2 separate regions of the Homo sapiens genome follow, and region 1 is linked to region 2. The links come from fine-mapping of genetic effects on gene expression. A gene starts in region 2. The other region holds a variant in brackets. All regions are shown on one strand. Distances are between the middles of the regions. Region 1 overlaps DGKG (diacylglycerol kinase gamma). Region 2 holds the start of RFC4 (replication factor C subunit 4).

What was found.
Region 1: its variant is fine-mapped to the expression of RFC4 in kidney cortex (GTEx, PIP 0.92).

The regions. Positions count from the first base shown.
Region 1 is chr3:186,236,745-186,239,661 of GRCh38, reverse strand. The region is part of intron 20 of DGKG (diacylglycerol kinase gamma); the gene reads left to right. Among named protein-coding and RNA genes, the nearest start is that of DGKG, 120 kb to the left of the region's middle. The variant T/C (reference allele first, on the strand shown) is at 1,553.
Region 2 is chr3:186,805,106-186,808,022 of GRCh38, reverse strand. It overlaps RFC4 (replication factor C subunit 4), which reads left to right and starts at 1,541. Exons shown (of 11, transcript NM_002916.5): 1 at 1,541-1,733. RefSeq lists enhancers at 762-1,373, 1,374-1,985.

The DNA.
Region 1 (2,917 bases), 570 kb after region 2:
CCTATTTCACAAGGTCACCGAACGCTTCCTATGAAGAACTTTGCATACATACTGCTTCTACCCTGCCTATTCGCCCATGTCTAAAATACCCAGGAGTGCCCAATTTGTCCACTGAGAGGCAGGCAAGCAGCCATTTTCTTCAGGCTTCCTTATTTAGCATTGGAGATGGTTTTAAATAGGCAGGTGGTTGTTGCCATGGTTACCCCATTACACCAGCGGCTAAACTTAGGAAAGGCCGCAAGGCATAGGAAGAAAGCTTGATACCCAGGATTTGGAAATGTAAACGGCATTATCAAACAAGGCCTATTTTACTCAGCTGAACTGAGGTTCTCCAAAGAGTAGTTACTGCTTGGCCGGAAGCCTTTACCATTACTGCCCAGGTTTGGACTCTCAGGGATAATCTTGAGGTTAAATCTTGGGAGTTGTCATTGCTGTGTTTTGTTCTGTTTTGTTTTGTTTTCAGCAAGGGAGAGTGACTAGTCAGGTCCGGAACACTTACCAGGAAACCGGAATCATTCACGTTGCTGATTCCCTTTTCTTGGCTATTCTAACAAGAATTCTTAACCTGGGATCCAAGGGCTTCAGGGGTTTTGAGAACACCTTGAAATTGTACTAAGGTACTGAATGTATTTTTCTGCAGAGAATGTCCATAACTATCAGAAGATTCTTAAAGGAACCTATACTCCCAAAATGTTTAAAAGTCACAGGTCTGAGGCCTCTTTGAATCCTAAGAGGCATCAAATTATGACTCAAATGTTGGGGTTTCAGGAAATTCTTCCTCCATGGCCTCTCTAGATGGGTTGTTGCCAGGGAAGATAGTGGGTTCCAGAAAACCAAGTTATGTTCTCTGATGGAATAGTTTCATTAATGGAGCAAGAACCAGAACCGAGGAGGCAGGAATACGAGCCATGTATGATGGGCAAAAAAGAAAAGGCCTTTAACGGCAGAGATGGGGTTATTTTTGGCCCTGTCTACCTCCTAGTTATCAATAGGCTAATCATTAATTGCTAATTGAGGAATGTTAGGGAGATTATCGTCTCACTGTTGGCATAAAGAACAAAAGAGAAATTTGATTCAACTGAGATTCTAAAGTGTTTGAAAGTGATCTGGAATAAAGGGCACATAAGATGTGGCCCCTGCCTTCAAGGAAATCGTCGTCTAGCAAAAGAAAAGGAAAAATAGTGCTCAAGTATTCTTTACAAAATTATTTTAACATACAAGGTGGTTACATTTCATAGGTGATATAGTATACAGGAAGTCGTATAATATGTAAGAACTTATTAATGGTCATATCCCAAACATCATTTGCAAATGGATTGTTTTCTTTTTGGGGGATGTTTTTGGTCTTTTTTTTTTTTTTTTTTTTTTTAGAAAGAGTCATTCTGTCACCTGGCCTGGAGTGCAGTGGTGTGATCTTGGCTCACTGCAACCTTTGCCTCTCAGGTTCAGGTGATTTTCCTACACAGCCTCCTGAGTAGGTGGGATTAAAGGCACACACCACCACGCCTGGCTAACTTTTCTTCCTATTTTTAGTAGAGATGGGGTTTCACCA[T/C]GTCAGCAAGCCTGGTCTTGAACTCCTGACCTCAAGTGATTTGCCTGCCATGGCCTCCGAAAGTGCTGGGATTACAGGTGTGAGCCACCACTCCTGGCCAAATTGGTTGTTTTAGGTGTAGCAATAGTGTTAAAGGGGAACCTGACTAAGAACTGTTTTCATTTTTTTAGCTCCTCCTAGATGCCAAGTGGTGAACTAGGGTCTTTAAATACATTAAATTATTTAAATCACAAAACAACCTTTCAAGATAAATATTAGCATTCCCATTTACAGATAAAGGAACTGACACTGGAAGAAACCAAGTCAACTAACAAAAGTCATGTATTTTTTAGGCAGTGGGGCTAATTTAATTTCTGACCTAGCTCTTCACTCCAGAGTCCAAGCTCTGTTTGCCGCAACTGCTGTCTCACATAGATTTCATTGAGCAAGCACTGATGTATACCAGACACTCTGATAAGTACTTTATACATCATCCCACTCATTGCTCACAATAACATGCAAGGGTAAGTGCTACTGTCCCCATTTTAGAAATGAAGGAACTGAGGCTAAGGAGGATGGAGCTGTCATTGGCATCATCTGCCTTTATGGATTGTCTCTGTGGGAAAATGCCTGCTGAGTTCCAAAGGGGAGGAGAACAGGTACACCATCCAGTCATACCTTGTATGGTGTGAGCATTCTCCCTGTTTCCACGTCCACAGCAAGGAGCAGGACTGGCTGTATGATCTGTGTGACCCAGTGCAAAATTAAAAATGTGAGGCCCCTTCCTCAAAAATGGGACAGCAAAGCATTAAACTAAGCACTGAGCCCTCTTAAGTGTGGGGCCCTGGAGTCCACATCTCACACCTATGAGGTGGCCCTGGCAAGGACAGAGGAATTAATAAAAAGAAGACACTTTTGCCAGTAGTCACAGAGTAGGGTGTTTGCAATAAAGTCAAAAGAATGGAGGAAAGAGGGTTTCAACTTAGGGAGAAGGAGAGGGACTCTCAGTCCCACAAACAGGCAGCAATCAGTACTAGCAGAGGAGCCAAGAATCCCGTCAAAGTCTTCCAGATAGCCAAAAACCAGCCCACCATGAAGTTTCCAGATTAAGTCTCCATGAAGGGTTTTGCATATGAAATCTATACATAAAAGCCACCTAATTCTAATGTCACTGTCAGTGAGTGTCTAGAAAGAGAAGTCTAACTGTGGAATGTTTTCATTGTTGGTTAGAAACTCAGAGTACTTGCGGAATGTGTTATTCTAAACCTGTTGAGTGTATCCACTTGACCGCGTCTCTCAGCAGTTGAGGCTGAAGCAAGTTATTTCCTGTTAGGCCCTTCAGAGGGACCGAAGCAGTGCTTCATTCCTACTAGAAGCTGACCACCT
Region 2 (2,917 bases):
GCCTCCCAAGTAGGTGGGATTACAGGCACCTGCCATCATACCTGGCTAATTTTTGTATTTTTGTAGAGATGGAGTTTAACCATGTTGGCCAGGCTGGTCTTGAACTCCCGACCTCAGGTGATCCGCCCACCTCGGCCTCCCAAAGTGCTGTGATTACAGGCATGAGCCACCGTGCCCAGCCCAACTTGTCTGTTAAATGAGATCATAACATCCCCCTCTCTGTGGTTGTGCTGTTCCTTCAGGTAGCAAATGGATACCATCTATTTTCATAGATCTTGTTTTATCAACTGTATTGTGGTATAATTTACATACAATAAAATATACAAGCATTAAGTATACAGTTTGATAAGTTATGGTAATGTAAACCGGTGACCAGATAGATAACCTGTGTGTTTTTTATACTGTCCAGAGATTGTATCAGACTCTGTGGAAATTACAAAGTAGCATAAAGCATCCTTACTTTGGTTAAACCCTTGATTGGGTTAGGCCTGGGATGTAAGTTCTCACAGCCCCCTACTTCCTCTGCATAACCACACATCACATTGTCTGTCACTCTCCTAGTCTGTAAAGCTACTTGAGGGCATCTCGAGCGTTTTCCCTGCTGTATCTGCAGGCATCTAACACAGTGCGTGGACATTCTGTAAGCATTTGTTGCAAGATAAATGAAAAAAACGTACAAAGTTAACAATGGATATCATGCTGAGTTTGTGCCAAACAAAACAGTCATTTGAAGAAGACCCGGAACAACCTTATGGGTTAGTAATTAGTAAAGACCAGTAGAGAAGGTGGCCTTTGAGAAGGGTCAGGTTTCAATAGGATTAAGGAGCATTTCAGAGCTAAACCAAGTACTTGGAAGAGATAAAAGCAGTGGGCTCAGGCACCAGCCTAGCCCACTGTGCATGAAGCTTGGTGGGGCTAAACATGATTATCAGTCCTTTAACTTTTATTGAACGCCTTCACTTCCAGATTTCTAAGTGGGGCTCAGGAATTATAATAGATGTCCACAGCTGCATGGTCTTCTCTCTCCACAACACGCAGACACTATTAGAAGTAAAAGCCACGTGTCCTCAAGAGGGCAAGGCAAAGCATCTTCAGATGTCTCTGCCCTTAAAGCACACGCGTTCTGCTCTGCGACGAAGCAGGACAAGGAGGACAGGGACCTGCACCTCCGGAGGCCCGCACCTACGAAGATAGCGGGCTCGGGACCTTCGGTGGACCGGCAGGGTTCCAGAGGCCCGCGCGCCGCCGCCCCGCCCTCATTGCTGAGCCTGCCAGGTAAGCAGCCCCAGCGCCGTGCCCGCGCGACCTCTACTCCTTCCGGGAGGGTCGCGCTCACGTCTGAAGTGGGAGCAATGCACCGGGACAGGGACACCTCCTAGGCCATGCCTGTTCCAGTCCAGTTCTGCCTGAAAGTCCGGCTGGCTCATCACCTGCCTAAATAAAACCGTATACGGGCAAACTCCCTCCGCAAGCAGCGCGCCCCAGCACCGGAAGTGACGCGTTACGTGCCCGCGTATTCCTACCGGCGTATTCCCGCCCTGCTTTTCGCCCGCCGTTCCGTGGCGGGAACTGAGGCGACTGTGGGGACATCAGTGATCGTAAGTCTCCTGGGCCCGTTATTCTCAGATTAGGTGACGGAGCTAAGACTTCGAGACCATCTCGTCCTTTTTGTATCGCGGAAACCTGAGGAACGAGCCGGCGGCGGTGACCTGCACGAGAAGCCAGGCTAACTGGTAACCTGCTGGAGGAACTGCAAGCCCGCTTCGCCTTCCCCACTCCTGCCCTTGATGCCCCTTGTGAGGTCTTCCACCTCCTTCGGGGCCCCAGCCTAGTGGCCCTTTCATGCCCTGGCCGCGCCCTTTGGTGAAATGGTGGTTCCGGACAGCATCTTGCAGGCCCCGGCTTTGGGCTGTATTAATGTTTAACAGCCCGAGGCAGGGATGGACTAATCCAGTAACGTTATAAAAACCTTGGCTGCTAACAGATATTAAAAATTTATTTTATTGAGCATATCCCCATATGCCAAGCAAGGAACTATGTATTTGCATACATTCTTTTATTTAACTCAGTTGTCCTGTGGAATAGGCCTTAGCTCCTTTAACAGAAAAGGAAACCGGGTATCATAGATGGTAATTCATTCACCAAATATTACGGAGCATCTACCATGTACCAGGCACTGTTCTAGGCACCAGGGCATGTAGCAGTGAAAAAAATAGAATTAACCGGGGACTTTTCAGGCGAGCTAATGATGCTTTTTATCCCTGAAAACAGCCTGGAAGAATGTTTACCTGCATGTTAGAAATAGTTACCTTCTGGGTGGGATTTTGTATTACTTTTTTAAATCTCTCATGCTTTTATGCATTGTTTTGATTTCTTCAAGTGAGTGTGTTATGAGAAAAACAGCTGTTTCTATTTTAACAACAGAGTCCCCCACCTTCCCTTCCCCACAGAAAGTCTCTGAAGGTAGGTAAGCATTGACTCTGCCATGAAAATAGGTCCCTGGCCAGGCGAGATGGCTCACACCTGTAATCCCAGCACTTTGGGAGGCCGGGGCAGGAGGATTACTTGAGCCCAGGAGTTCCAGACCAGCCTAGGCAACATGGTGAAACCCTGTCTCTACCAAAAATTTAAAAAATTAGCCGGGGGTGGTGGCACGCACCTGTAGTCCTAGCTACTGGGGAGGCTGAAGTGGGAAGATGACAGGAGCCTGGGATGTCAAGGCTGCAGTGAACCATGATTCCGCCACTGCACTCCATCCTAGGCAAAAGAGTGAGACCCTGTCTCAAAAACAACAACAACAAAAAAAGGTCTTTGAGTTCTGACCCAAGGAAAGGAGTGAAGGTTCTCATTTGTGGTGCAAGCAGAGCACCTTTAATTGCCGAAGAGTCCATTTCAGGGTCTGAGCTAGAGCTAGGCC